Regions from separate parts of the Homo sapiens genome. Here region 1 is linked to region 2. The links come from fine-mapping of genetic effects on gene expression. A gene starts in region 2. The other region holds a variant in brackets. All regions are shown on one strand. Distances are between the middles of the regions.

Region 1 (16,012 bases), 23 kb after region 2:
GTTAAGTAATAAGTATATTTTCAATGCAGTGCTCCTTGATCTAAGAGGTGATGTTTTATCTAACCAGTAACTGACTGTAAGGTGCTTCTACATGGCCTAGTGGTACACAGTAAGCATCAATAGTATTACACATGATTGTAATGATAGTCGGAGTCAGACTTGAGAACAGTCCAGCTTCTTCTAGGAATTAGTTAGGCTCAACTTCCAGGCCTGGCCACATCAGAGTGACAGGTATTGGGCTTACCCTCCATCCAGCTTCACCTGTTTTCAGGCTTTAAATAATCCTGAGAGAAGAGAAACAAACAAAGTGAGGTCCACATGGACCCAGGCACTCCCTCCAAGAGGACTTTCCAAAATGTCACACAAGGAGTTAGAGCTGAGTGGAGAGCAATGGTCTCACTGTGGGGAGGAAACAGAAATCAGAACCGGGACTGCCGAGTTGACTGGAATTTGTGTGTACACAAATGGGAGAAAGAGATAGCTGTGCAGAGAAGCAGCTTCAGATATCTACATAGATCCCATTGACTACATGGCTGAATATTAAGCTGCAAGTGCCCACAGAAAGATTCTGCAAGGATGGGCAGAGAACAGATCCTGGAAGCTGTGGGCTGAACAGATATTAGCGATTTCAGAGGATGCTTGGGACTAGGGGAACTTGCAGTCCTGAACAGTCAGTGCAGAGACACTGACTGGGCATCCCTGACAGTCATTTGATACCCGGACTGGCAAGGTCTTAAGAAGAGAAGTACTCTATTCCTAGACCCATCCTAACAAAGCCTAAAAGCACGGTCCAACAGCATAGAACTCATCTGCCAGTAAGTTAACTGCTTGCCAGAGAAAGGCTCACCACTCTTAAAAGGAAGACCACATAATCTAGATTCACTGTGATAGATCATTCATACTGTCCAGCATACAATAAAAATCACTAGACACATAAAGAACAGAAAAAAATGTGGCCCACTAAAAGATGATGCAATGTTTTAATTAACAGAAGAGGGTTTTAAGGCAGACATTATAAATATGTTTAAGTATTTAAACTAAAAGATGGACATAATGAGCATGCAGATGGGGAATCTCAGGGGAGAAATGGAAACTAAAAAGAAAAATTTGGTAATTTTATAATGGAAAAATAAAATATCTGAAATGAAAATTTTACTGGATGTACTTAGCAGCAGAACAAGAACTAGAGAAGGAAAATAATCAGTGATTTTTAAGCCTGAGAAATTAAAACTATGCAAAATAAAGCAGGGAGTGGAAAGAGAGAGAGAAAAGATTGAAAACAAATGGAAATTAATGACTTGTGGGACAATACCAAATGATCTAACATGGATGTAATTGGAATACCAAAAAGGAGATGAGGGAATTTGATCAGGAAAAAAATACATAAAGAAAAGATGGGCATTTCCAAACTTGTGGAAAAGTAACAGGCTGTAAAACCAAGAATATTCATGAACCCTAAGCAGAATAAACACATACACAACACCCACCTAGACATACCAGACCTATCAGAGTCAGACTGTTGAAAATCAAAGATAAAGAGGCAGTGTTGGAAGTGGCCAGAAAAAATAAAAACAAAAAGATGCCTCCCAACCTTTTTGGCTCCAGGAACTGGTTTTGCAGAAGACAATTTTTCCATGAACTGGGTGGTGGGGAGGATGGTTTGGGGATGATTCAAGCACATCATATTTATTGTGCACTTTATTTCTATTGTTATTACATTGTAACATATAATGAAATAATTATACACCGCACCATCATGTGGAGTCAGTGGGAGCCCTGAGCTTGTTTTCCTGCAACTAGACAGTCCCATCTGGGGGTGATGGGAGACAGTGACACCCAAAGTGTGTTGCTTATGTCCAGTCTATTCTGTAATCTCATTTTGGTGGCTGTCACTGCAGAAAACTGCTTCACAAAGATAGGATGTTGGAAATGGAAACAGGCTTTTCAGTGATTTTGTGGCAATCTCAGGATATTCTGCCTTGACTTTAATCCAGAATGTATGGTGATGTGAAGTTGTCTCAAACATACTTTTAGGCTCACCAGATGCAGCTGTACAACTGAAGTATATCAGCTCACTTGCCACGATAGAGCGTGCCACCAGACACAGCTTAATGTTCACCTGCCACTCACTGATAGGGTTCTGATATGAGTCTGCAAGCAGTTGATTTACTATGGTCTCTGCAGTCAAACCTCCCGGCTAATGTTAATCTGTATTTGCAGCCACTCCCCACCACTAGCATCACTGCCTCAGCTCAGCCTCAGATAATCATGCATTAGATTCTCATAAAGAGCACACAACCCAGATCCCTCAAATGTGCAGCTCACAATAGGGTTTGCACTCCTATAAGAATCTAATGCCACCACTGATCTGAGAGGAGGCACAGCTCAGGTGGTAATGCTCACTCACCCTCTATGCCTGCTCATTCCTAACAGCAAAGCAAGGGGGTGTCAGACTGGACTGAAAAGCAAACCCAACCCTGCTGTATATCAGAGAAGCACTTTAAAGACACAGATAGGTTAAAACTAAAAAGACAAAAAAAGACATACCATGCAAACACTAACCATAGGAAAATAATATTTAATTCTCTAAGTTTCTCTGTTATGTTGTTTTGCTGCTGCATTTTTGTTTTATCATTAAAGTAAATCTCTATATTAATTTCAAATTTGAAAAATGACCTGTATAGTATATATCACCCTACATGAAACTCTATAGATACATCCAAAACCCTACGAAGTTGTTCTGTAAGTTTCTGATAAATGAAGCCGCAATGAAATTGACTGAAAGGATCTTTGTGTGATGTCCAGCCTCCCCCACATCTTTGCCATCACTTGGTAATGTCAGACTTTCTTTTTTCTTTTTTTTTTTTTTTTTGCAGGTCTGATTATGGAAATTATGTTTCATGTTGTTTACTTTAAAGTTCCCTAAATATCAGTGTTTTTCTATTTGTTTACTGATCTTTGAAAGTTCATCAGATGATTCTGGCATCTCTCTGTCCTTCATCCCCACCCCCTACCTCACTAGAAAAGATCCATTTGACACCTGGGGCCAATCTGTCTAGCTATGGCTTTGGTTCTTATCTCCAGTGACAGCATAGTTGAAGATGGTAAGATAATCTTCACTGATGTATGTTTTACATATTAATGCTTGTGTTTGGTGCCAGGGTAATTTACAAAGATGCAAGTCTGGAAATTGAGCAAGTCCATTACCACCAGCTGCTTTACTTAATGGTCTAGCCTCTGTGTTAGGCCATCTTTTGCATTAATATAAATAAATATCTGAAGCTGGTAATTTATAAAGAAAAGAGGTTTGATTCGCTCATGAATCTGCAGGCTGAACAAGCATGACACCAACATTTGCTGGACTTCTGGAGAGGCTTCAGGAAGCTTACAATCATGGCAGAAGGCAAAGCAGGAGCTGGAGTATTACATGGCAAGAGTGGAAACAAGGGGGCAGTCTCAAGCTTTTGAACAACCAGATCTTACAAGACCTGAGTGAGAACTCACTCATCACCAAGAGGATGCTGCTAAGCCATTCATGAGGGATCCACCCCCATGATCCAAACACCTCCCATCAGGCCCCACTTCCAACACAGGGGACTCCACTTCAACAGGAGATTTGGAGGGGACAAACGTCCAACCATATCATCTGTTCTTTTACCCAGCAAAAAGCAAAATAACAACCCAACCAAGCGAAGTTTTTTAAAATAAAAAAAGAGGAAAAGAAGAGAGATGAAAGAAAGAAGAAAGAAAGAAAGAAAGAAAGAAAGAAAGAAAGAAAGAAAGAAAGAAAGAAAGGAAGGAAGGAGGGAGGGAGGGAAGGAAGGAAGGAAGGAAGAAAGAAAGAAAGAAAGAAAGAAAGAAAGAAAGAAAGAAAGAAAGAAAGAAAGAGAAAGAAAGAAGAAGAAGAAAGAGAGAGAAAGAAAGAGAGGAAGGAAGGAAGGAGGGAGAGAAAGGAAAGAAAGGATGGGAAAGGCAAGAGGTAAATCTCTCTCTCCTTGGGGAGGTCCCACAGTGCTTGTCCAACACTTAGCAAGGCTGACTTCCCTCTCACATCCTGAAATGCCTTCACCCTGGAGAAACAGAGGGACATCCCCATTTATGTACACTTTGTTGAACATGGAAAGAAGGTTAAACCTTTCTTCTTTCTTTCCTTTTTTTTCCATTCCCTCCATCTCCTGCAGGCTCCAAACAATTCTCTTCCCCCCTCACCCCCAGCACTATTAAGGTATAATTGCTAAATGAAGATTATATATATTTACAGTATACTACATTGCATAATGTTTTAACACATGTATACATTGTAAAACAATTACATCAAGCTAATTAACATAGCCACTTACCATTTTTTTTGTGGTGAGAACATTTAAGATCAACTGTCTTGCAATTTCCAGGTATAGGATTCATTATGATTGACTACAGTCACCGCGCTTACAATAGCTCTCCAGAACATATCCACCCTGTCCAACAATTTTTTTTCATTGCTATAAGGAAATATCTGAAGCTAGGTAATTTATAAAGAAAAGAGATTTGATTGGCTCATGATTCTGCAGGATGAACAAGCATGACACCAACATCTGCTGGACTTCTGGAGAGGCTTCAGGATGCTTCTCTATGCAGCTGAAGGTGCTACCTCAGATGTGCAGCTTGTCTGGCTTCCTGGTCTTCCCCTCCCTGGGGGACCAACTGACCCCAAACTTAGCCAGCAACCAAGTCATCAGGAGGGCTTCCTGACACACAGGCGCTGGCCTCATCCTACAGTTTCTAATTTACCAGGTCTGAGAATTTGCATTTCTAAGAAATTTCCTGGCAATGCTGGACCCTGAAGCACATCAGATGCTGGCTCCACTTCTGGGGAGACCATGTTTAAACCAAGGTAAAGGAGGCAGCAAGAAAGGCTGAGCAGTGTCTCTATCGGTAGCTTTACCCTCCCAGGTCTGGCTACACTGGGCTCTCCCCTGTCTGACAGCTCCCACGTGTGTATAATGCTGGAAAATAATTACTAATAGCAGCAATATATAATGTTGATTAAGGGTTCATGCCTACGAAGGACTAAAATGCATGGGTGATAATAGTCATAGTAATAGCACAAATAATAATAATGACTCAAACCATGATTTTGGCACTGTGGTGGGGCCAGCACCATACTCAGCATGCCCCTGTGAGCATCCCTGGTTCATCCGTGTCTTGCCCCTGGGTGGCAGCCTCCCATTTATCAGAGCTTAATGCCTACCACCCCCTCTTGAAAATATGCTTCTTTTTGTTCATTATCAATATCCTCATACCTACCCAGTGTCTGGCACAAATTTTGTATTCAATAAATATTTGTTAAAAGATAAAAAGGAGGCTCAGAGAGTCGAAATAACTCGCCAAAAAGACCATGCTGCTGATAACACTCAGAGATGAAATTCAGCTCCAGGGTTATCTGACCACAGAGTCCGAGCACTCCAGCCAGGGGCTGGAGGAAGGAGAATCCCACGTGAGGATGGGGAGCCTCTGATGCAACCCCTGGTCCCAGGCTGGGTGCCCTGACGTGAGATCCCAGCCTGGAGGGGTGGATATCAGCCTCCCTGCCTTACGTTTGGCTGCACTGGGGTTAAATCACCACCCAGGTCAAGCCCTTTGCAAGAGGAATAGGCATGACTCTGTGGTTCCCAGGTTAGTCTTCTCAGCCACTGCCTCCTGGTCCTCAGGTATAAGAGCCCTTGGTGGGCACCTTTGCATTTAACCTTATCAAGGGTCTGTGAATTTTGCAGTTAAATCCATTTTCACAGACTCAGAGGAAGAAACTGCCTGCCTGGAGTCACACAGCTAGTGCCTGGAGGCAGGCCTTTTGAACCCAAGGCCTCGCTTGGTGCCAGAGCCTCTCCCACCAACTCAGCACTGCCTCGGGGTGCTGCGTTCAGAGGTAGCAGCTTCATCAGAAGCAGGCAGCACAGTCGCGGCGGGCACCCAGGCAAAAGCAAGCCCAGCCTCCCCTCATCCCACCTCGTTGCCCTCTTGTGTCTTACGCCCCACAAAATTTCACTTATTCCACTAAGTATCCAGAATTTTCAGCCAGCAAAGAAAAGGAAGAAGAAACAGGCTGCACAGAGCAGCGAAGGCGTGTCTGGAGCGCTGCCCAAACTGACTCCTTCCATCACTCCCGGCACAAAGGAGCCGGCACGTCTGGCCTTCACGGACGCCTCCCTGTCCTTGCTCGCTCCAATTTCTTGGCTGACTGAAAGAAAAGGAGACCCCTGATCTAATGAAATGTTCCAGCAAGAGGATAAATTAACTTCCTCTCCGAGTTGTCCAAGCTATTTACTGTAAACCATGCAGTCAAATGAAACTGACTTCAGCAGCTCAGCAGGGTCTTACAGCCTCCAGTATCTGGAAGGAAGTCCTGGAAGGACGGATGGCCCCAAAACGCTTCTCCCTGGTGCTTTCCACTCTTCTTCTTTTCGGATTTTGAAAGGAAAACGTCTCTTTTGGAAATCAGTAATACTAATCAAAATATAAGGATTCCTGTTTTTAACATTTAAATTGCTCCAAACTTCCTTGTCCAAACTGCTAAAGCAGCATCCAGTTATTGAACAGTGCTTTCTAGAACTACTGAAAAACAGGGGTGAGCACAGGTTATCTTGAGAAAGCCGCATAGAGACAGGGCTGGGCTGCAGGGGAGCAGGAGAGGCCTTCACTCAGGGGTCCAGCAGGTGCTGGTGGGCCTGGCACAGCGGCACCCCCTTCCCTGCACCCGTGGAAAGGTTCCGCAGGAGGAGCTGTGGAGTGATCGGGGTGATGAACTCAGCATGAGGCTGTGGGTTGGTGGCCATGAGGGTGATTCACAGGTGCAGAGCAGGTTCTCAGACGTTGGTACATGTACAGATTGTGCAAGACAATAGGACACCAGACAGATCCCCGGGCTCCACAGCAGAAGTCTGGTTACTGGGCAGGCAGGCCCCAAACACTGTATTTAAAACAAAACCCCACTGACAAGTCCTGTGACTGGAGAGACCCCGAGTGAAGGCAGACCTCCATGTCCTCTACATCCTGTGCCACATCTGGAGAGACCCCTGTGAGGGCAGAGAGCTACCTCCTCTTCTTCCTGTGTCACACCTGGAGAGACCCCGAGTGAGGGCGGATGGCCACGTCTTCTACTTCCTGTGTCACACCTGGAGAGACCCCGAGTGAGGGCAGATGGCCACATCCTCTACTTCCTGTGTCACACCTGGGGAGACCCTGAGTGAGGGCAGACAGCCATGTCCTCTACGTCCTGTGCCACATCCGGAGAGACCCCAAGAGAGGGCAGACAGCCACCTCCTCTACTTCCTGTGTCACACCTGGAGAGACCCCGAGTGAGGGCGGATGGCCACGTCTTCTACTTCCTGTGTCACACCTGGAGAGACCCCGAGTGAGGGCAGATGGCCACATCCTCTACTTCCTGTGTCACACCTGGGGAGACCCTGAGTGAGGGCAGACAGCCATGTCCTCTACGTCCTGTGCCACATCCGGAGAGACCCCAAGAGAGGGCAGACAGCCACCTCCTCTACTTCCTGTGTCACACCTGGAGAGACTCCAAGTGAGGAGAGACGGCCACATCTTCTACTTCCTGTGTCACACCTGGAGAGACCTCGAGTGAGGGCAGATGGCCACATCCTCTAATTCCTGTGTCACACCTGGAGAGACCCCAAGTGAGGGCAGACTGCCACCTCCTCTACTTCCTGTGTCACACCTAGAGAGACCCCGAGTGAGGACAGCCAGCCATGTCCTCTACTTCCTGTGCCACATCCGGAGAGATCCCGAGTGAGGGCAGACAGCCATGTCCTCTACTTCCTGTGTCACACCTGGAGAGACCCCGAGTGAGGGCAGACGGCCACATCCTCTAATTCCTGTGTCACACCTGGAGAGACCCCGAGTGAGGGCAGACGGCCACCTCCTCTACTTCCTGTGTCACACCTGGAGAGACCCCGAGTGAGGGCAGACGGCCACATCCTCTAATTCCTGTGTCATGCCTGGAGAGACCCCGAGTGAGGGCATATGGCCACATCCTCTAATTCCTATGTCACACCTGGAGAGACCCCGAGTGAGGGTGGATGGCCACATCCTCTAATTCCTGTGTCATACCTGGAGAGACCCCGAGTGAGGGCAGATGGCCACCTCCTCTACTTCCTGTGTCACACCTGGAGAGACCCCGAGTGAGGGCAGATGGCCACCTCCTCTACTTCCTGTGTCACACCTGGAGAGACCCCAAGTGAGGGCAGACAGCCATGTCCTCTACGTCCTGTGCCACATCCGGAGAGACCCCGATGAGGGCAGACAGCTACCCCCTCTACTTCCTGTGTCACACCTGCAGAGACCCCAAGTGAGGGCAGATGGCCACCTCTTCTACTTCCTGTGTCACACCTGGAGAGGCCCCGAGTGAGGGCAGACGGCCACCTCCTCTACTTCCTGTGTCACACCTGGAGAGACCCCGAGTGAGGGCAGACGGCCACATCCTCTATTTCCTGTGTCACACCTGGAGAGACCCCGAGTGAGGGCAGACGGCCACATCCTCTAATTCCTGTGTCACACATGGAGAGACCCCGAGTGAGGGCAGAAGGCCACATCCTCTACTTCCTGTGTCACACCTAGAGAGACCCCGAGTGAGGGCGGATGGCCACATCCTCTAATTCCTGTGTCACACCTGGGGAGACCCCGAGTGAGGGCAGATGGCCACATCCTCTAATTCCTGTGTCACACCTGGAGACACACAGAGTAAAGGTGGACAGCCACCTCCTCTACGTCCTGTGCCACACCTGGAGACACCCTGAGTTAAGGCAGATGGCCACCTCCTCTAATTATTTTTAAGAACTTTTTTGGGGTATAATTTACATGCCAGAAAGTTCACCCATTTCAAGCATATGATTCAATATTAAAGCTTAAAAATGTTATCAATTTAATAACATTGATGGTTACAGAGCTGTGTAATCATCAACCTAATCCAATATTAGAGCATTTTCATCACCTCCAGAAAGATTTCTGGTGCCTGATGCAGTCATTTTCTTTTAGACTCCCAGCTCCAGGCCTCTCCTCACAAATCCTCGCAGCCAACACGTTAGTATCCATGTGTCCATTGTTGGTATAAGAGAGAATTACACCTGTTTTTTTATGCTCAGCAAAGAATTGCTGCCATTTTAAAAACAAGGAAGAATAGTGCACCTGCTTTTCT[C/T]CCGTGTTTATCTTACCCATACGCAAGAAGAAGCCACATGCCTTGGTGTGGTTTAAGGCAAGGGCCTCCCTGCCGTTTCCTTTCCCGTTCTTTCCAATGCCATTCACCATCCCAAGGCAGGTGGAGGTTTTGTGAACCTGGTAGAGATGAACTTTGAGGCCTCTCACCTGCATGGGCTTCCTCCAGGCCCTAGGAAGAACCCTAGCAATATGTTCATATGGTCAAACACTTTTGTAAAAATTGCAAAAATAAGCTATTTTGAGTGGTGTTGGTTAAGAGTGTTCTGCATTTGCACTGAGACTCAGCTTCCAGTTCAGTGAGGACAGCCGGGCTAGTGTAGATGCGGCTTCCAGGAGTGTTTCTGCTCCCCTTCCCCACATCAATCACTCAACATTTACACAATATGGCAAAAGCTGAAGTTCTGGTGTGATATAAATGACTACTCTGGTGCTAGACTCCAGAAGAATATGGAGAGTGGAGGGGAGACACGGCAGCAGGAGCCAGTCTGTGGAAAATCCTTCCAAATCATTTCATTTGTATGAAGAAAACTTGAAAAAAGATCTCCCAAATTTGAAAAGTATTCAAAGTTTGCCTATGACATTAGTAAAAACACTTTGTGATATAAAAGGAAACCTTTTAATTGTTAATAGAAAATCAAACTTTGATCAATGATGATGGATTAAAGACTGAATCACCCTTCAGCAAATCATTCTGCTTCTTCAGCCTCTAAAACGATTCCCTTCCCTGATAATTGTGACTCAAACGGTGCATGGACCACGAAAGTGCTTTGTAAACTGCACAGCGCTATGGCAATGGTGTCATTATGATCTTCATCGCTACTATCGACAACCTGGAATAAAACTCTTTAACTTCCAGTTGCTGCAACACTTAATCACCCAGTTGACCATGGAAATTACTCAGCTCGGCATGAGGTGCAGATATAGCTGCAAGTGGAAGCTGTTTTTAAATAAAATCTTATTAATTAAGGAAGTTCTGGTTGTTGTTTATTTGCATTTTTTTAAGCATCTAGGAAGTCCCCTTCCTGGTTATGGTCTGCTAAACCTGTTTCTCCCTGAAATTGTGTTCGTTATCTAACATTCTTCAGGTTCCATCTGATCACAGTCTTCAGCCGTAGATGTCTCTTTCCTCCATTCCCCCAGCTGAGTTTCCAAGCACAGAAAGGAGGAGCAAATACACCTGAGTTTGGGGCCCTCTTCCCTCAGTTCTGTATCCATTTTCCCTGAGCTGGACAGACTTCAAATACCATCTTTCTGCCGCAGTTTTATCTGTCAAGCCATCGTTCTACGTGGTATTACTCTTTTCTATTTCAGAGAATTAATTCTCTGAAATTGCCAGAAATAACCTCACACCTCACAGCAGTTACCCCTACCCATTAGCGGGAAATGGCTGTGGTCTCTCTCTTTGGAATTATTGTACTGCGAGGTCAAGGATGGCAAGTGCAGTGGAAGCCATCTGCTTTAGCACCATTAGTGCACTTTGTAGATAATTATGTAATTTTTCAAGCATTCCTGGGGATTCACTTCAGCTGCCCAGTCTTATGAGTGAATTTTGACAATAGAAAATTGTGGTTGATTTCAGTTTGTTTGGGTACCGTTCCCATAGTAATAAGAATAATTATTAATAAATGGAGAAAGTTGTGCTAAGGGTTTCAGTCAATAAATAACCTTAATTTTTTTTCTTTAAAAAAATGCTTGCAACAAAGATCTAAAGCAGAAAGAAGCAGGGACATCTCATAGTCTCTTTTCTTTTTGGGCTTATCTTGGAGGTGAGATACTATTCTCAATTTAATTAAAGTCATGAGGAATAACCGGCTGCAGGACTATATTTCTAGCAGGGATCCCAAATGTCAGGGAGCTTGTGAATTTCTCTAACAAGAGAAGGATAAAGGTCACCTACGTGTTTTAAAGACAAGTACTCACCTTTCCCCCACCCACCCTCATCAGCTTGTAAGTCGTGAAAGGCTTAGCACATCATACGTAGTTGGAAAAAAAAAGAAAAGAGTACAAACAGCACATTTGCATGATTGGCCACTGTTTCTCCAGTATTCAAACCATCAGGCACTCGTGGGCCCCCAGAAGCCAGCAAGTGTCCTTGTATTTTCTGGGTGGCTGCATAGTGAACTGGCATCATGCCCTCTGCCTCCACACATGTTCGTGGAAACCTGGCCCTGTGCTGGGCAGCAGGCTACAGATTGGGGATATAGCATCCTACACAGCCAACAATGCCCATCTGGGGCCTCATGGAGCTTGCCCTGCCAGTGAGGTTTGGAGTGGGAACTTCAACAGCATGGTAAAGGTCCCTGGATTAATTCCAGCTCCCCCAGAAGCAGAATTCAAGGCTTCAAGTTGTTAATTTGGGAGGGAATCCCAGGAAACTGCAGCAGTGGAGTGCAGGGGTGAGATAGGGAAGGAAAGATAGACAATGGAGCGTATGTTATTCAGCCAGCTACACCTGTGGGGTACTAGAGTGAGCCCCTGGGGCAACTCCCGGAGCCACTGCAGACATGCATGCAGAGCTGGTGTGCCTGAGGGGAGAGAGAGCTGGGGTATTTAAACACCCACTCCCAAGAGTGATTGATGGACAGCTGCTCCTGGTCACCATTAATCCTCTGGTGTTTCTGACCCTCTGGGCACGGAGCAGGGTGGGGGCTGTGCAGAGGGCTGTGTAGCCAGAGAAAACCCTGGGCAGAGAGATGCAGAAGCCCCGACAGAGGGAAGTCTGCAGGCACAGCCCCCACACCCATGGCGGGCACCAGGGTGAAGGAGGAGCTAAGGGAGCCACAGGCACCCCAGGAAGGCTTCTTAGTGAAGGGAAGGGAAATGAGATAGCCACATGGAGCCTGGAAAGATGGGAAGAGTTCTTCCCCCAGGAGGATCTAGGGAGGAATGCTCCATTTGCAGGGCCCCAGAGGGAATTTAAGGAAGAGTGATTTCAGGGCCCTGACAGGAGTTTAATCTCACTGGGGCAAAGGTGAGAGGGGGTGGGAAGATGTTGCTGAAGGGGTGAAACCAGGCCAGAAAATGGGAAGGTCCTATAACTCGCTATAGCCCTAGGGAGGAGTGTAAAACAAAGGCATGAGGAGATCTCCTTCTGCCCACTGCAGGAGGGGCCATTTCCCCAGTTTCCAAGAGGGAATGCATGCCTGAGCTGGCAGAAAGGCTGGAGAGAGGTGGGTGGTTGGAAGGGAAGATCAGTCAGAGTCGGGGCAGTGCCATTTACAGGGTTGGGAGACCCAGCTTAGAACTTTAAACAATGGAGTCTCGGTGCAATTTGCAGATGAGGGATAAGACCAGCCAACCAAGGCCACTGATTTGGCCACAGAGCCTGGAACCTCCTCTGGGAGAATCACATGTGTCTGCCTTCTCCCCTTCTCCCTATAGTCCTGCTCTGCTCTGTAAGAGGAGAAGACACTCAAAGGTACGAGAGGAGGCTGAGGTCCCCCCTTCCACCCTTCCCTGAGCAGAGCCATCTGACACTGGAGCCGAGCTGCTCCCCCTCTTCCTGCACATCCTCAGCTCTCAGGGGCAGCTGCCAGCTTGGTCTCAGACACATTCACTTCCCAGACCCCAATCTCATTTGTAAAATGACAGCTGGAGCGCATCTGGCCTGGCAACTTCATTCAGAACATCATGTGGCTTCGTTTCTCTGTAACTCCACCCTTCACTGCAGAAGTTCAAACCACCAGTGGGTCTGTGAATCAAGTCGAACCAGACCTTGCTATGTTCCTTCCTTTCTGATGCATCTACCAGAGAATGATTCCAACATGCTCCCTTGAATGGCTGGGCCAGGAATTGGCACTTATTTCCACGTTTCATAGTGATACCCTGAACTGGTCTGTAGGAGACAAAAGGGGCCCTTTGCCCATCAGCAACCCTGTGAGATGCCATCAGCACATTTATCCCAAAAGCCACACTGCGATGTTCGTTTTTTACTGGGAGACATAGTAAAAAGGCGGTGACGTGGTGTAGGGCCGCCAGAGCGTATGGGTCTGTAATGGCCGTCTTCACTATTGCCTCCTGCTCCTGATGATGCTAATGTAATAGTCACCCACGGCTGTGAACAAGCCGAGTGAGCGCCATTAGAATGTGCTTAGCATGAGAGCAAGACCTCTGTGATGCTGGCCCATGTGGTGGACGGGATCCCCTGCTTGTAATGCCAACCACAGACACCCACAGATAGAGAAGGAGGGAAAGAGTTTGGTTGGAGGTACCAGGGTATCTCAGAGAGCTGAAGAGGAAAGCTGAACAACTGGGTCCCGAGGACAGAAACCTGTGCCCAGCTGGGGATCTCTGCTGCTGGACGCAACGGTGGCCCCTGGTTTCTTCACTGCTCTGTGTGGGGAGACTCCGTACTCAGACGTGGTGAGAGTCAACCCACTGCACCTCGGCCTCAACCATCTCAGCCTGGGCTTAGGTATTCATCCTCAGTGCCTTGCACACGCTGAGCGTTCAGTAGGTATTTGTGGAATGAATGCTTTAAGAGGTTCCAATTGGCCAGGCGTGGTGGCTCACACCTGTAATCACAGCACTTTGGGAGGCTGAGGTGGGCAGATCACTTGAGGTCAGGAGTTTGAGACTAGCCTGGCCAACATGGTGAAACCCCATCTCTACTGAAAGTACAAAAATTAGCCATTTGTGTGGCATGCACCTGTAATCCCAGCTACTTGGGAGACTGAGACAGGAGAATCGCTTAAACCTAGGAGGCAGAGGTTGCAGTAAGCCAAAATGGCGCCACCGCACTACAGCCTGGGCAACAGAGCTAGACTCCTTCTAAAACAAAAGAAAACAAACAAAAAAAAAGAGGTCCCAATAGATTGTATAAATTTGAGGAGATTCCTCTTTCTCCATCACGGATTTGGTTATTTGGTGGGAGGGGGAAGAAGTTTCAGGAGAAAATTGTTTAAAGGTCCCTTGTTTTCATTCAAAATGAACAAAATGGAAACTTCATTAAGCTCCATAGAGGAAACATATACTTTTAAATGTTGGTTACCTATGTTATTGTCTAAAGCCGGATTTGCAATCTAGGGCCTGCTGGGAAAATTCAGCCACCCTGTGCTTTTATAAATAAAGTTTTGTGGGAACACAGCACACCATCTCTTTATATCTCCTTTCACACTGCACTAACACGGTTGAATTGTTGCAACAAAGACTGCATGGCCCTCAAAATGGGAAATATTTACTATCTGACCCTTTACCAAAAAAGGTCTCTGACCCTTGGTCTAGAAGAACATCAATAAGACCAGGCTGCTGCATTCTAGTCTCTGAATTATGGGACATTCTGGGCACAACTGTGAGCAGGGTGGGGAGAAAGGGCACACCCATCCTCTTGGAACCCCCTGAGGCCGAGGCTCCAGGAAGATGTCCCAGTGCGGATCAATATCAATCCCAGCCCCAAGCGCCCCGCCGGAGCTGGTGCAAGCAGCCCCACAACCGTGTTGTTTTCTCCCCCTACTCTCTTGGAAGAAATGCCCACGATTGAGACCCCAGACCTGGGTTTAAACCCTGATTCCTCCCTGGCTACAATGAGAACAACTCACTAAAGACCCTCTAAACCTCGAGCTTCCTCATCCGAAAAGCTGGGTCGATGGTTAACATGAGTCTCTCGGACAGAAGCTAATGTTGGGATTAAAGGTAACAATTTGTGTGAAGCAAGCATGGTGCCTACCTGCAGAAGGTGCCCAGAGACCCTCGTTTCAAACCCCACTGTATCCCTAACATCCATGATGTACTGGTAAACGTTTAACAAGCAGATTTCAGTTTGGGATGGGGGAAGCCCTGACTTATAGCATCTGCCAATTGTCATGCTATAAATGGCCCTACCCTACCGTGGCTAATTTCAAGCTGTCTACGTGACATTACTGAACCAAGGCAGGGAAGAGATGCAAACCATCAGGTCTCATGCGTGATGTGGACCAGTCCCAACACATCATGGTGAAAGTTAAGATTTTATCAGGTTTCCTAGACATTAAAAAATTGCCCTGGTGTTTGGTTAATCCCCACATTCGCTGGGGTCCCTGATGTTAGCTGCAACATTCTTTCCTCGATACAAGGCTCCGCCACGAGGGCAGGGGGCAAGCTCCATGCATCTTTCTCCCACTGACACAGACAGGGCTCTTCACCACCACAGCCCATGACCTCCTGGACTCAACTGCCATTGGAAGTAGAAGTTCAAGATCTCTACCCGGGGAGGCCAATACATTAGCTGGTTGCTGGCCTCCTTTTCTTGGGTTGAGGCAATATTTTATTTTAAAAGTTGGGGTATCAAAGTACACTTAGAATGATCTCAAGACATGCAACATCCTCTTGTCTCTTTGATGGGCACGCGGTGGCGGAGCCGGCACCATGCGTTTAGCCATCTGAGGGGTAGAGTCACAGCCATGACCATCGTGGGCAGCTTGACAGGGATTCTCTCCACCCCTCATTAGAACCCCTGTTAAGGGCACGCCTGAGCCGAAGAACCAGCTCCTTCCTGGACGCTGTGGCTTCAATGTTAAAATCCCAATCCGGAGAAGGATTCCTTCCCTGCTTTTCCTGGACACTTTTCATGGCTGAGCGTTCCCGCCCAGGGTGAGCACTGCTGCTCCGGCCTTGCTGCCCCATCGCTGTAGAGACTTCATCGTCTCCATTTCTGGGCCTGACTTGGCTTATTTTCTGCAGACTTAGAAAAAGAGGGCATTAAGAAGTCATTTATTCCGTAAGTATTTTACATTAGTCTAGCTCTGGGTCAGGGCAAGTTCTTGTCTTTGGGCCTTTTGTCCCTTGTTTCACAAGTCAGCCTTGCCGGACACCAGCTTCCCCATGGCCA
Region 2 (16,012 bases):
GGCATTCAAACTGGAGACAAAGAGCCCTACCCTGGCTCACTCTACGATGCTGGTTTCTGAGCACAGGTGTCCTTCGCATCCTGGGACTGGACAACAGGGAAGGGAGCGGGGCTGGGTACCACTTGGTTTTAGCAAGGAAGGTCATATAGTAGGTTGCCTGTTTCTACACATTTCTCTCAGTTTGTGGGATGGAGTTTTCTTGGCCCTGGAGGAAGGACAAGAAGTCAAACTCAAAACTGCTGAGTAAGTGGAGGGTGAGAGGGGCCTGAGTTCTATGACATCAGTGGCCCCAAATTATTTTGAGTTGGTCTGTGTTTCCTTGGTTATGTTTACTCTAATGTAGCGCCATCCTATATTCTAGGAATATTCCCTTGAAACAAAATAAGGAAACTCCGCTGAAGCCTCACTTCAGATTCATTGTTTCTTTCAGTACACTTTTATTGGGCCCCTACTGTCTGCACAGAGCTGCAGGAGCGGCTGTGGACATGGGGAGGGACCCCATGGACCTGTTCCCCAGACAGAGCAGCGGATATGGGAACAGGCCCTGGAAGAAGACTCTCTGACCTTGAAACTGAGTTGGTCATTTCACAGCTCAGATATGGTTTGGCTGTGTCCCCACCCAGATCTCATCTTGAATTGTATGCATAAGCAACATGTGTCATCGGAGGCACCAGGTCGGAGGTAATGAAATCATGGGGGTGGGTTTTTCTCATGATGTTCTCATGATAGTGGATAAGTCTCATGAGATCTGATGGTTTTATAAATGGGAGTTCCCCTCCACACGCTCTCTCTTGCCTGCCGCCACGTAAGACATGCCTTTGCCCCTCCTTTGCCTTTTGCCGTGATTATGAGGCCTCCCCAGCCACGTTGAACTGTGGGTCCATTAAACCTCTTTTTCTTTACAAATGACCCAGTCTCGGGTATTTCTTCATAGCAATGTGAAAATGGACTGATACAGTCCCTGAGCCTCAGTTTCCTTCTCTGTAAAGTGGAGGTAAGGATAGTGCATGTTATCATGGTTGTGCAGATTTAATGAGATCATCTGGCATATGAATAGCCCAGTATAGCACTTTACCCCCGGTGGCTGCTCAATAAAGATCGTCTGTGAACGTTAATTAGGGAAGACAAGCCCCATCCCAGTGACAACGGTGCAAAGAGGAAGGGGTTAGAGCCACAGACAGAGCACTGGTAATGGATCTGCAGTTCCCAAAGTGTGACCAGCAAAAGCTGCGTCACAAGCGAATGTGTTAGAAATGCAAATTCACAGGCCCCACTGGACTTGCTGACTCAGAAGCTCTGGTTGGGGGTAGTGGGGGCAGCTCTGTGTTCACTGCCCTGCAGGATATTCTGATACTGGCTCAAGCCTGGCAGCCGCTGTGATCACCTCCTACAGCTGGAGACTGGAAGGAGAGAGTGCCCGCTGCTGGGGGACCCTGCAAGGTTCGCTGAAGGAGGTTGCAAGGGGACAGAGTGAGAGGGGGCTTGGCAGTTCACAGAGAGAGAAATAAATATGTAACCATTAGGTTTGTCGCTGAGTTTCCAACGTTTTTGCATCGAAGTTGCTGGGTGTCAGGACTTTCCCTGAGCCCTTCTCATCCCACCAGGCTGTCTAATGGTCCTGAGCACTGTGAGGTCCTCTGGGGCAGCCACACTTGTCTGTCTTTCCTGTAGTGCTGGGAACTCATGGGGGCCACGGTCAGAGACTGTAGCAGCTCTGTGACAAATTTGCTGGATTTAGCAGGCAGGGCAACACAAATATATTATCTTACAGTTCTGTAAGTCAGAAGTCAGACATGGGTCTCCCTGGGCCCAAATCAGTGTGTCTTCAGGGCAGCCTTCTTTCTGGAAGCTCAAGGAGAGAACCCATTTCCTCGCCTTCTGCAGCTTCCAGAGCCCCCTTCCTCCACCTTCAAAGCCAGCACTGCACCTCTCAGTGCTGTTCCCACAGTTCCATCCCCCTGGCCCCCTCTGACCCTGCCTCTCTTCTGCCTTCTGCCTATGAGAACCATGGAGATCACGGTGGACCCACCTGGGTAACCGAGTATAACCTCAATTTCCAGGTCAGCTGCTTAGCAAACTTAATTCCATCTGCCGCCTGAATTCTCCTTTGTCACGTGAGGCAGCACACTCAATCCACAAGTTCCAGTGATTAGGACATGGACATCTTTGAGGTGCAACATTCTGTCCACACAGGGCCCATGTTCCTCTCCATCTGTTAGCCTGGTGCCCCAACAGTGTAGGGTGGTGACTAAGAGTGAGCATTTGTGAGTCAGATCCATCCGAGTTCAGTTTGCAGTCCCCTGCTTTTCCTTATGTGGCCTTAGGCAAGTTTCTACACTTCTCGGAGACTCTGTGGTCTCATCCGCAAACCAGCGATGACAGTAGAACCTACAGCACAGGGACATTATGCCAAACTCTTGCAATGCCCTTGTCACTGTGTTATTGTGACCATTGGAAGGAAAATTAGAGCTCGCCTGCTCTGACCCCACCTCCTATACCCACCATCTCTCTGTCACCTCTGGCAGATGGTGCAGTGGGGCAGACTGTCTCCTGGTCAGCAGTTTCTCCCTACCCTCTGGCCACACTGCCAATGCTGCTTGAGAAGACATCCTGGTGCCATGCTAAGCCACATGGAGTGGCTGTAACTGACCACACACTGAGTCCCAGGATGGGCCATGATGGACTGGAGCCAATCAGTGGATCCCAGGCCTCTAACCAAAAACATGTGTCCAGGATGGGATCCTGTCCACCCAGGTCTGGAGCCCACACACCACATCTCCAGAGCCTGAGTTGGCCACAGGTACAATGGAGAAGCTTCGGGTGAAGCTGATGTTGAAAAAGGTGGGGGAGAGAGTCAACAGGAGCTCAACAATGTCTTCAAAGACTGTTGTTCAAGCCTCTAGATCCAGCCTTGCCTGAAGGCAGCCCTACTTGGGGACATTTATGTAGACGACCCAGTGACCATGGATTCTCTTTCACTTGCTGCACAAGGAGTCTGGTCTTTCAGTTCTATTCAATCTTCTCCCAAAATAGCACATCTTCTTTGGACAAGATTGAAGGGGATGCCTTCTAGTCAAGGAAGGCTGTATCCATGTGGCTGCAACTCATTTCCTAAAACTTCGTTCTTCCAAAGCAAAACAAAACAAAACAAAAATCCAGCTCATTTGTTTCACAGGAACTTACTAAGTGCCCTCCTCTTTTGTTCTGAAGCCTTCAAATATTTTTAAACCATTGTCCTTTCCCTTGGCCTCCTCTCTTCTGTCTTCATATGACCAGTTTCTTTACTCAGACCCTACATAACTTGGCTTGTAGATCTCCCATCACCACAGTTAGACTCCTCCTCCAAATGCCACTTTTCCAATCTCCTTTTAAAACTGTGAAGTCCCCAGTAACATTGGCTGTCACATAAACCCACTCTGGATGTGGCCAGATACAGCTGATTCTAGTGACATATTGTGTCTGTTAATGTCTGGCTACATCTTAATGTGAAGCGATGGTTCACACTGACGGGATGTCCGAGTGGGAAGGCACCCTGGTCAAGAGGGCTCTGCATTTGTGATTTTACATGACATACATATGCTACTGATGGCTCTTGATGCCATTAGGAACCACCAGCAGGAACAGACATGCAGTTATGCAAACCACATCCTTTTTGTCCAGTGGTCCTGGCCAGCCTCAGACAGTGACCCAGCCCTGAGTTGTCAGAGTGGATGGTCAGCAAGGTGTCAGCTTGGATTTCTCAAAGCAAGGCTGATATGGTTAGGCTTTGTGTCCCCACCCAAATTCCATCTTGAATTATAATCCCCACAATCCTCACCTGTCAAGGACCCAATGGGAGGTGATTGGATCATGGGGGAAGCTTCCTCCATGCTGTCCTCATGACAGTGAGTGAGTTTTCAAGAGATCTGATGGTTTTATAAGGGGATCTTTCCCCTTCACTCATACACACTTCTCTTGCCTGCTGCCTTGTAAGACATGCCTCTTCCCCTTCCGACAAGATCGTAAGTTTCCTGAGGCAAACCCAATGCTGTGGAACTGTTAGTCTTTTCTTTATAAATGACCCAGTCTTGGGTATGTCTTTATAGCAGTGTGAAAATGGACTGATACAAAGGCCATCTCACCACCCCTTGCTTGCATGGGCCATTGATTTTGACTTACCATCAGGGCCCAGCGACCCTGGCCAGGCATCCTTTGGACCACTCCTCACACTGCCCAGACTGGACAGGACACAACCCTGGAAAGGCCTGGCTCCCTCTCCACACAGCTGCTAGGCTTATGAGCTCTGAAAGGTACAGGCCTCCAAGAGCCTCCATTCGGCCTTCAATAATGAGAGGGGGAGAAGAGCCATCTCTCAGCCACAGCTGGAAGGAAGTGGGCTTCATATTCATTTGCACAGCTCCTCTCAACCTGGCCCCTTCTTTTTTCAAGTAGCAAGAAAAAAAGCTGAGAGAGCCAGGAGATGGAGGCTCTTAGTAGATCTTTAAAAGGGGCAATTTTGTTTCATTTATCTGAAAAGTCACACCGCACATGGTGAAGGGGGAAGAAGGAGAAGGGGAGGAGAAGGAGAACTCGTGGAGGATGGCTGGCACCCGGGAAAGCAGACCCCCTCATCCTCTGGCTCCGTGAGTGGGTTCCAGGACATCGTGCAGGAGGTGACTCTCCCTGACTCAAGCTGAGCCTGCTCATCACAGTGTCTGGTGTGCATGATGTTTCTCTTATTTGCTAGGTTCAAAGCTTTGTGCCCACAGCTTCTTTGCTGGTTCTTTCACACGTCTGCCCAGGGCCCAGCACCTGCCATATCTGGAGTGCTTTCTGACCCCGACATTCCTGTCACCTCATTCAGTTCTCTGCTCACTCATCACCTCCCCATTGAGCCCTTTCCCCAGCCCCCCTGCCTAGCCCCATCCAGCCTTCCTCACCCATAGCGAGCTCTGCCTGCTCTGGCTCCTTGTATAGACTGGCTGCTCTCCTGGGTGGCCGGAGCAGTCTGGTTCAAGGTATAAGACCCTCCTCTACTCTGTAACTGCTGTGATTGAGGGGCCTAACTCGAACCCCAGGTACAAACTGGAGTCACAACCAGGACATTCAGCCACACACATGAGGCTATGCCCTGCACAGCAACCCGTGTGTAGAAGTCTCATGGAGCTTCCGTAACAAATGACCACAATGGGGAGGTATATTCCCTCCGCATTCTGGAGGCTAGAAGTCTGAAATCAAGGTATCAGCAGGGCCATCCTCCCCACAGAGGCTCTGCAGGAGGACCCTTCCTGGCCTCTTCTACCACCGATGGCTCTTGGTGTTCCTTGGCTTGGACACATCACTCCAATCTCTGCCTCCACTTCACATGGTTTTTTCCTCTTCTTTCCCTGTCTCTGCTCTGTGTGTCTACTTTTATTTTTTTATTTTTTTGAGACACAGTTCTGCTCTGTCACCCAGGCTGGAGTGCAGTCCAGCTCATTGCAGCCTCAAACTCCCAGATGCAGTCATGGCTTACTGCAGCCTCAAACTCCCAGGCTCAGGTGATCCTCCTACCTCAGCCTCCCAAGCAGCTGGGACTACAGACGCATGCCACCATGCCCAGCTAATTTTTTTTCTTTTAAAGATGGGGTCTCGCTATATTGCCCCAGCTAACCTCAAGCTCTGGGGCTTAAGAAATCTTCCTGCCTTAGCCTTCCAACATGCTGGGATTAAAGGTGTGAGCCACCGTGCCCTGTCTATTTAAGGATACTTGTCATTGGATTTAGGGTCCACCTGGAGGATACAGGATGATCTCATATCAAGATCCTTAACTTAATCACCTCTGCAAAACCTCTTTTTCCAAATAAGGTCACATTTACAAGTTCTTGGTATTAGCACACATATCTTTCTGGGGATCACCATATACTTATAAATAATAAAATTGTGGACATTGTATAAACACTGATGGCATGCCAGTCAAGGTGTTACATACTTCACTTTTGTTTGCTTATTTGATCTGATAGTCCCTATGCCATATCTCCCCCCGCTCCCAACAGGGAGTTGCACTGGACTTCCAACAAGGAAGAGAGGTGGCCTTATCCCCATTTCACGATAAGGAAACTGAACATCGAGGAATGTACAACCAGCAGGTGGCAAATACCAGAACTCAGATGCGTGTCTTCCAGGCTTCCAAGGCTGTGCTCCCACATACCCCACAGCAACTGCCTTGCAGATGAAGGTGCTGGGGCTCAGAGGCTTGCCCAATGTCCCGTGGCTGAGAAGTGATGAACAGAGTTGAAATTCCACTGCTTCCCATTCCAGGCTCTTGCTGCTGTAAGATGCCTCCTCCTCAGGGTCCAAAGTGGATGGAGCAGCCTCTGGTCAGATGGCACCATGTGCTGGGTTACAATACAGAAAATCTTCCCTCCCTTCTTCCCCGGGCCACTTCCCTCATCCCACTGAAGTCTTGCCTCATCTCACTGAAGTAGGGCTTGGATAAGTAGCTTGTTCAGGCCAATGGAACATAAGCATAGACAACATGCCAATCCTGAGCCAAGCCTAGGTGGCATCTGGTGCTTCCTCATGGCCTGTTGTGTTCCTACTGTTACCACAAAAAACCATGCCCTGGGTAGCCACTAATTCAAGGATGATGGGAGGCTCAAGGAGCAGAACTCAACCCAATTCACAACCTGGAGCCTGGAACCTAGAGCCAGGAGCTGGGAGTCCAGAGCCCAACCTAGCCCAGCCGTGGTGCCATGCAACTCTCTTACTGGCTCATAAGTGAGAAATGTCTGTTGTTTTCAGCCTCTGGGTTATGGAAAGATTTGTTACTCAGCATTATTACAGCACTGCTAACTGATACAGATGGGTCTAAACTTGGATGGTTAACAAATATGGAATATATCTTTAGAATAACAGATTATTCTCTGATTCAGAAAGAATGTACAACATAAAATCCAAAATAGATGGCCCCATGCTAACTGAAACCAGTATTCAAGCTAGCTCTTTACAATTTAAAAGGAAATTGGAATTTGAGATGGGACAGGCGTTTTTCATTGGAGATGTTTTGAATGGAAGCATCAAGATCTCCAAAAACGTACTTCTCACTTTTTAAAGGCTTTTGTTTATACCTAACACTAAACTGATGCTAGATTGAAACATCAATTGACAACCTGGTCTGTCAATGAAGAATGTTCAACTTACATGTAAATACATGTACAAACATGGGCCTTCTATTCAGTCAGTCTCAATTGAAAACTTTCTTCTCAAAATTCACTCTAATATGGGGATTGTGTTTATTTATGGGTGACAGCTAATTTGCTTTCTTCCTGTAATAAAATAATTAAAATACTTTGCTCTACGAGTTGTATTTTTTCAGGGTGATCCTTTCATTAAAAGTCATTTAATATCCTTCTGTTCTGTTATCTGCTACATTTCAACTTTTGTGTTTTCTCTGCTCTCCTTGTCTTCTGTCATATTTCTCATTAAATTTCCCCTTTTTGTCCTTTTGTTATGATGGCTTATTTTCTGCCCTAAAACAAGCTTTGAACTTAAAAACCTGAAAAGCATTTTATTTGGAATAAAAGAATCCACAGTGTCACACATTTGTCAGCTAATGTGTTCCTGCCTATGCTTTGTTTTAATTTTTCAGAGTGATTGTTTATGAACGAGGCCTTTGGTTTCTTGGAGGCTGGTTTGGTCTTTCTACCCATTCTTCACAGAAAACGGTAATCCTCTGATAACATAATCATCACTGTAGCAACCGGAGGCGATGTCACAAACAGGATTATGACTTAAGAGCCCAGATTTGCATCTCACACCCACTACTTACGCGCCAGGCGCCTCTTTGGACGCCACTCCACAGCCTCGTGTGTTAAGAGGCACACAAGAGCTGCCTGATTGGCCCCCAAGCTGAGAACCGGGAGCCGGAGGAAATCATAGCGAAATCTCAACCTGATGTAGCCCCATCAGCATCACACACACACTCAGAGCAAAATGGCCTGCTCTTCAATGTAGCTTAGTTTAGTTCAATTGTCCTGCCCACCCCCTCCTGACCCTCCTGCCGCTGAGGGGTGGTATTTGAAAGAACAGGTGAGTGCTTCATAGGTGCCGGGTTCGTGATCTAATTCTGGGTTCCTCAATCTATTAACAGCTTGGGAAGAACAGATCAGAGGACTGATGCTCACCTGGGTTTGGATTCCTCCTTTAGCCTTTGACAAGTTACTTAACTGAGTAAATCCTCAATTTTCACCATGATAAAGGAAAGATGGTGTGTGACTATTATGTTTTTATTCCGGATTGAAATACTCAGTGTATTCATAAGGCCAGTGAAGGCAGCACAGGGAAGTTAGTGTGGGCTGGTGCTGTGCTCATCAAGTCCACAGACACCTTAGGGGTTGTCAGGGTATTATCTGGGTCTTCTGGGTATCCCAGTGGTTTGGTTGGCGATTGTTCACCCATTTCACAGATGGCAAAACTGAGGCTTATGGAGTTTCCTGTGATGCTCCAGTTCACAGAGCTAAAAGGAGTAGAGTGATGGCTCAGACGCGGGCCTCCCAGCTCAAGTTCTGTGCTCTGGATGGAAAGTCAGGGTGACCCTGAAGGACGGGGCAGCTGTGCAGGGACAGGATAGGCCCATCCTGGAAGGCTCATTGGCTGAGGGAAAGAGGGTACAGGGGAAATAATTCCCTTTCATCCATCCATCCCCATTATTGCTCCTAAACTTCCCTTCCACCTCCAGCTTCTTTCCTCTCTTCTCCTTGGGACAGCAACAGCACAGAGAGTGGGCCGCCATCTCTTACTGCCCACTCAACCGTTGCTGGGGACTGATTCTTTCAGCTCTACATAGAATTCAAGAACTATATTTGGATCTGCTTCAGAGCAGTAATCCCCACAGCCTTAAAACATGCAAAATAAAAATAAATTAATCATCCATCAGCATTTTATGGTACATTTATAATTTTATTTAAATGTTTAATATCATAAAACAAGCTTGGCTCATGGAGAAAACTGTTGATTTCATGAGAAGAAATTGCTCTCTTTTAAACGAAAGTAAATACTCTTTAGGGCATCCCCAGATAGGAAATGAAGATGAAGGAAGCTGTTCCCAAGTTGGCCAAATCTGGCAATTATTCTCTCAAAGACAGCAATGTGTCACAGCAAAATGCGACAATTCCCTCAAGTGACCAGTGGGACTGATTTATGAGCAAAAGCAAAGACATTGTTCCCCCAAACGACTTTTGAGTTACTAACTCCCTGAGAGGGAAGATCATGGAAGGAGGGGGACCCAGGAGGCTCAGGGGTCCAGACCAGCTCTGAGAAGGACCTGTCTTTCACCTTTCCTCAAGGTTCTGTTATTTTGAATGGCAGATCACCATCACTTTCAAGGCCTGGCCTTGTTCTCTGATTGGTCATTCTTAGAGAGAGATAGGTTGCCCATTAAGACCCATTGTTCTGACTCTGAAATGAAAGAAAATGAAGCAATTAACATCTTGGCAGTGGGCAGAATTAATCATGCTTGACCATTTTTATTTAAGTTCTCCCCCAAAATGCAGCACCGAAGGGCACTTATTAGTTCACACAAAGAGGCATCTCTGAACAGCAAACACTCAATTATTTCGATGTTTACTGTTGAGAAAACTGCAAAAGAAAATATGCATTCAACAGACACATTCTGAAAGGTCTTTAAAAATGAGGCTATTTTCACAGTTTCTAAGGCATATCCTATAATTTTGTTTTTTAATCATTGCAACCTACTGGATTCAATATTAGATTCTTATTTCTACCTCTCCAAACCCTCATCATAGTCTTCTGGCCATTCAGCAAAATACATTACTTTGCAAAGCTGAATGTAAGCATAGACATCTTACATTCAGCTTTGCAATGTCTTACCTCCACTGTCACAAAATTAGGTAGCACCTCAGATCAGGTGAAGGAAAAATGACACATCGGATTTGTAGACTGTCTTCCTCTCTCCCATGACCACAGTGGTCAAGTGGTTGCATTGATTACCTGATTAATGGCCTCCTTGTATTCCTGTCCCACTGGACTCTTGGCTCGCTCAGCCAGGGGGCTTTCTTTGGCCAATGGATGTTAGCAAATGTGACCCAAGCCAAGTTCTGAAAAGATATTCACTCTCTTTGACCTCTGCCACCACCGAGAGAACATACTCAGGGTTGCTTGACAGAAAAATAATCTAAAAGATATCTAGAGGAGAACGGACTGGCCTCCAGAGCCACCCTGGACCAGCAGCCCCCAACCAGCATGCAGCTGATTGCAGCACAGCGAGCCACCCCAGTAGAGGCAGCTGAGCCTGGCTCAGATCAGCAGAACTGCCCAGCCAATCCAAAACTCAAAGAAAAATAGTGAATGGTAGTTCTTTCAAGCCATTCAGTGTTGGGGTAATTTGTTATGTGGCACTATAGAGGCAATAGGTAGCTGATACAAACCTAACCCCAGCTGCCATTCATTAAGCACATGTTATGTGTCAGGGATGGCGCCTTGTAAAGTTGACACTTTACAGACTCAACTCTGATCTGCCCAGTGATGCCACCAGTCAGGTGTCATTATTCTCATTTATATAGATAAGGACACATGCCTTACACAGTAGAGTTTAGTAAGCATGTGAGAAGCTATGTTTGGACCCACAGCAGTCCCCTCTTCCCTCAAGTTACCTGCCTCCACCATGACAGTTTGCCCTGAATCCCTGGCTCTGGTGCCCCACCCTGAGCATAAACAGGTCATCATGTGAATACCAACAAACTCATGTTGACCAGGAAGGACTAAGCCATGCCTCTGAACTGCTGACACGTCATGTGACCTGTTCTGGAAATGCTATATGGGCATGAGCAAAGCCCACCTTGAATGTCTAAAAATAAACATGAGCCAGGAGTTCCTATCTGCAGCCACTCATCAGCATTTTATCCTCCCAGCTCACCCACTCATCACACTGTAAAATGGGATTGCTCCGAACAAACCCATACAAGGCAGATGTCCAGCCCACCACTCATGCCCAATGATGGGGGAAGCGACGGTCACTCTCCCACAGCAGGCCTCTCCCTGAGATCACCCTGTTCTGGCATAAATAGAGTGTACCTGTGATGGACCAAATTCATCCAGCTCTCGTTCTGGATGTCCTCCTAGCAGAAGCTGGCTACTCTTAGCTGAATTCTGCTTTGTTCCCTAATAGGCACTGGCCTGGATGCCATGAAAGGGCCAGGAGCTTGCCAGTCCTCCTCACTGTATCTGCAGCTTTAAGCATGATAAGAAATACAACAAGTGTTTGTAGACAATGAATGGTCTAAATGTACATATGGGGAGTTCTACGAGCAATGCATCACAATTCCAGCACACACTTATTTGCATCTATTAATGTTTCTTGACTTTGGTTGCACACTAGAATCATCTGAGCTGTTCTGAAAAGCACAAACACACAGCCCCCATCCTGGAGCAACAAAACATCCTGGGCTATTTGAAGGATTCCTGAGTAGAGCTATTGCTTGAATTCTCTCTGGGTCAATCTGATGTGCAGCGAGGGTTGACGGCTACCCTTCTCTCCTATTTCAATTTAAACACAGAATTTTAGCCAACTCCTTTCTAACCCTCATGATGTGATGTCATCTCTCCAGGGAGATCTTGCATAGTGTTCCCAGGAGAAGGCCCAGCAAAACTTGCGGCAAGAGGAAGTAAAAATCCTGCCCCCACCCCTTCTATACATGCCTGCAGGTGGCTTCACAAACTTGTTTTCCCTGCAGCTGCTTGCACATGTAACAGCTTCCAGGATAACCAATGAGCTGGAACCAGTAAGATGTGGCTGGGGAAGGGGGCTTCTCATCTGTCAGCTGGGGAGCCTCATGGGGCCTTACATGGACTCAGCTTCTTACCAGTTCCAGAAGAGCACCCAAACGGCCCTGGGATTTTCAACTCTGAAGCATAAGGTGGGAACCCGGCAGCAGGCTGGACCCTCTGGCCCCCCTCCCTGTTGTCCTCCATGAGCTCCCAGTCCCGTTCATATCAGAGCAAAACCACAGCTGGTGGGACTTAGCGGATTTTGACAGCATGTTGATTATGAATATTGTCCCTTTCAGGCAAGTTAATGAAGCACCCAATTCACACCAGCTTTTATCTGTCAGAGAAACACCAGCAAGCAAGGTAGAGACAACAAGCCAAACCCTGATGTGCAAGTATGAACTTCATGTTAATTAGGAATCGGAAGAATGTGTGGGTTTCTCTAATGCACTCATCATACGAAGCCAGCTGATTCAAATGCTCTCAACCTGAGCTTCGGGTCATTTGTGTTAGCTGTAAGGCCATCTGAGGCAGATGCATTGAACCTGACCTTGAGAGTATCCTTGACCACTGGACCAAGAGGCCAGAGACTCTACAAGTGTGCTCAGGCCAGATGGCTAACTCAACTAGTGCCTGGCAGGAAGACTCAAGATGCCAGCTTCTCCCCTAAACCATGTGAACATTCAACCATTTTAAACTATAAAAACAGCAATTTCAACCAAAACACTGGACCTTTGCCTATTTTACTGGAAGTTTCTCTCTTAGAGTATGATGAAAAGAGGATTGGTTGTAAGAGACCTGGCTGCAAGGCTCACCTCCACTAAGTAGCCATAGACATTTTGGCCACTAATGTGCTGTGAGTCACCTTATTCCTCTGGTCCACAGCTTCTTCATCTGGGAAAGGAAGACATTGGATTGTAAAGTAAGAATAGCCCACATTTTTTAGCATTTGCAATATGCTAGGCAATGTGCTAATTGCTTGATTATTAAAGAGACAATTAACATTGAAAAGTAGTTATTAACGCTTCAACACCCCAGCAGGTGGAGATCGTCATTAATCCCATTTATCAGATTGGGTCATTGAGCTCAGGATGGTGCATGTGCTGCGTCTGAAAGGCTGGGGTCTGGTGCTCGCTTCTGGGCTGTTGATGACTGGGTTCAGATGCATCATTGTGCATGCCTTTCTTAGCAGAGGATTTCTTCCCGCTCTGCTATGGACAATTTACTGCTTTACAGTCTTTTCACCAGAGACCACTCACTGGCAGTGGCATTTGTAGAAAGTAGCCTCTAAGCTGCAAAGCCCTGCCTGTCACCAGACCTACGTAGAGGGATTCCCACTTGCTTTATGATGTCCAGAGTGCTCCTCGTGTTGCCCTGTGGGTTTTATTTTCCTGTTTTCCACTGGATATGGTCAACTGGCATTTACCATGAATTCCCAGCTCCTCCACAAGTTCTTCTTGTACTGCTAAGACTGAAAACTTAAACAATACATTTTCTACAATCTCTTATGTGGTGAGCAGATAGAAACGTGGTCCCCAGTGATCCCCACCCCCTGGTATTCATGCCCCTGTGGAATCCTGCACCCCTGTCAGTGTGAGGTGAGCTAGTGACATGTTCTAGCCAATAGGATGATGGGATGACATGTGTAATTAAGGGGATAAGATGTCACTTCCTTGATTAGCTTACAAGAGATTGTAACCTCCATCTTGCCAGCAGACTCTCTGGCCATCTCAGCTTCCAGGATGTAAGCCCTCACATTGCAGAGGTCCCTGTGGTAAGGAACTGGAGTGGAGGGTGGCTCTGCACAACAGCCAGCAAGGAACTGAGGCTTCTGTCACCCCTGGAGCAACTGAGCTCACCAACAACCCGAGTGAGCTTGGAAGCAGAGTTTTCCCCAGTTGGGCTTTCAGATGAGACCCCAGCCCCAACTAAGGCACCATGATGGTAGCCACAGGAGACATGGGACACAGCCAAGCCCACCTGGATCCCTGATCCACAGAAATTGTAAGACGATAAATGTGTACCAAGTTTGCTGTAATCTGTTAGGCAGTAACAGGTCACAAACACACCTTCACCCACAGATGAGATTGAGTTCTGTCAAGCAGAAAGACACTTCCCAGGGGGATATGGAAGAAATGAGGCCATCTCCTGGCTTCCCATGGCTGATTCTGCCAGCACCAGCACCTGTGTCAGGCCACCAGCTGAGCAGGTGTGGAGATGACATTACAGCCTCCATAGCTGCATGATGCTGTCTGGGTGTCCTCATAGTTACAATGGTGGCAGCAGATTCCTGAGCCCCATTGCCCAACCAAGAGACGTCCGTTTTCATGTATTGTTGGGATCGATAGTTCCATGGCAGTCTCCTGATTCCTCACTTTCCTGATGGTGGAAGAGATGGCAGCTGCCTGGCAGGTCATTCTGCAGTGCACACTCACTCTGCAAGGTGGCACATCTCTGCATCTCCAGAGTCCACTTCTCCTTCATCTGGTAATTTCATGAGCACCTGATTCCCTGTATTCAGCCACTTTCACCTCAAGTAGTTTCTGTTTCCTGCACAGAGCCCTGATGGATCCACCTGGTATCTTGATTGTTTCCTAGAAAGTGAAGAAAGTCCTTCAATTTTCTCACCACATACCTGAGTGCTTTTTCTCAGTGAGAATTCAAGAGACTTTGAATCTTGGCCAAACACAAATTAGACAACATAATCCTACCTCAAATACATATGGGGCTCTATCATTTACCAAGCTGCAGAACTCCTTTCTTTTACACCCCACACAACTTTCTGAAGTAGGTGTGCTTCCTACCCTCCCCATTTTATAGATGAGAAAACTGTGGCTCAGAAGCAGAACATGTGCTGACCAGCTGGGAATGACATAGCCAGGACTTCACCCAGATTTTACACTAGCTTTAATGCTTTCTTCCTGCCGTATGATGGCAGTTCCTGTGATTTATTATTCTTGTGACTTCACCAGTGATGCCATGCTTAAACCCTCCAGCTTCTACAAACATGAACCACAAGGTGGAAATGGCCACTCAGTTTGACTTTTTGGACATTATTTTCTCAATCCCATTCCCAGGATGCTTGCTTGACTGCTGTGTGAGAACCAGCTCATCCATCTGTGTTTGTTTTGTTTTGTTTTTGAGGCAGGGTCTCACTCTGTTGCCCAGGCTGGAGGGCAGTGGTGCAATCATGGCTCGCTGCAGCCAAAACCTCTTGGGCTCAAGCAATTCTCCCACTTCAGCCTCCTGAGTAGCTGGAACTACAGAAGCATGCCACCACCCATGGTTAATTTTTGTATTTTTTTGTAGAGGTGGAGTTTCACCATGTTGCCCAGGCTGGTTGTGACCTCCTAGGCTCAAGCAATCTGCCCACCTCAGCCTTGCAAAGTGCTGAGATTAAAGGCGTGAGCCACCATGCCTGGCCCCATCCTCTTATTAATTTACAAATACACAAGTGGGTGCTAGCAACAAGATCAGGGTACTGTCCAAATCCTTCTCTCACCAGGGTGAACAGATTTGGAGGCACCTGCACTGCCCAGCTCATCTTCTCCCTTTGCACACAGATGGCATCCTCTAACGTAGCCCCATGTCCATGGAGCTGTGCTCATTCAGATGAAGTTCCTTTCCTGAATTTGTGTGTCCCAACTGCTGCTTTTCTCTAATTTTCCCAGTGTATTTGTCTGTTCTCACTCTGCTAATAAAGACATACCTGAGACTGGGTCATTTATAAAGGAAAGAGGTTTAATTGACACAGTTCCACATGGCTGAAGAGGCCTCACAATCAGACCTGAAGGCGAATGAGGAGCAAAGTCACATCATACATGGTGGCAGGCAAGGGAGCTGGTGCAGAGGGACTCCCCTTTATCAAATCATGAGATCTCATGAGACTCACTCAGCATCATAAGAACAGCATGAGAAAGACCCACCCCCATGATTCTGTTACTTCCCACCAGGTCCCTCCCATGACACGTGGGAATTATGGGAGCTACAATTCAAAATGAGATTTGGGTGGGGACACAGCCAAACCATATCACCCAGTCTCCTGTCAGCTACGGGCAGCCCCATCCAAGCTGAAGATACAGCTGTAAACAGAACATTTTGGAGCTCCTCAAGTAATCTGACCAGCACCAAGAAGGCTTCCTAATGTCCTTGAGATCCGTTTCAACACTTCAAACATTCTCACTTCAGTAAAGAGTTCCTTCCTAGTCCGTGTGTTCAAGAGACCAGAATTAAGAGCAATGGGCAGGCTGAGCATGGTGGCTCACAT

Alleles and levels. Alleles are on the strand shown, and positions count from the first base shown. SD is a standard deviation of normalised expression in the study named.
For the expression in testis of the gene that starts at base 7,783 in region 2, allele T in region 1 goes with a lower level than allele C (small effect, 0.20 SD a copy in GTEx).

What was found. PIP is the estimated chance that this variant, and not a neighbour inherited with it, causes the effect.
Region 1: its variant is fine-mapped to the expression of LINC01718 in testis (GTEx, PIP 0.97).

Annotation. Positions count from the first base shown.
Region 1 is chr20:61,093,843-61,109,854 of GRCh38, forward strand. No RefSeq gene overlaps it. Among named protein-coding and RNA genes, the nearest start is that of LINC01718, 23 kb to the left of the region's middle. RefSeq lists an enhancer at 7,313-8,512. The variant C/T (reference allele first, on the strand shown) is at 9,188.
Region 2 is chr20:61,071,282-61,087,293 of GRCh38, forward strand. LINC01718 (long intergenic non-protein coding RNA 1718) reads left to right here and starts at 7,783. Exons shown (of 2, transcript NR_109919.1): 1 at 7,783-8,049; 2 at 8,699-8,898.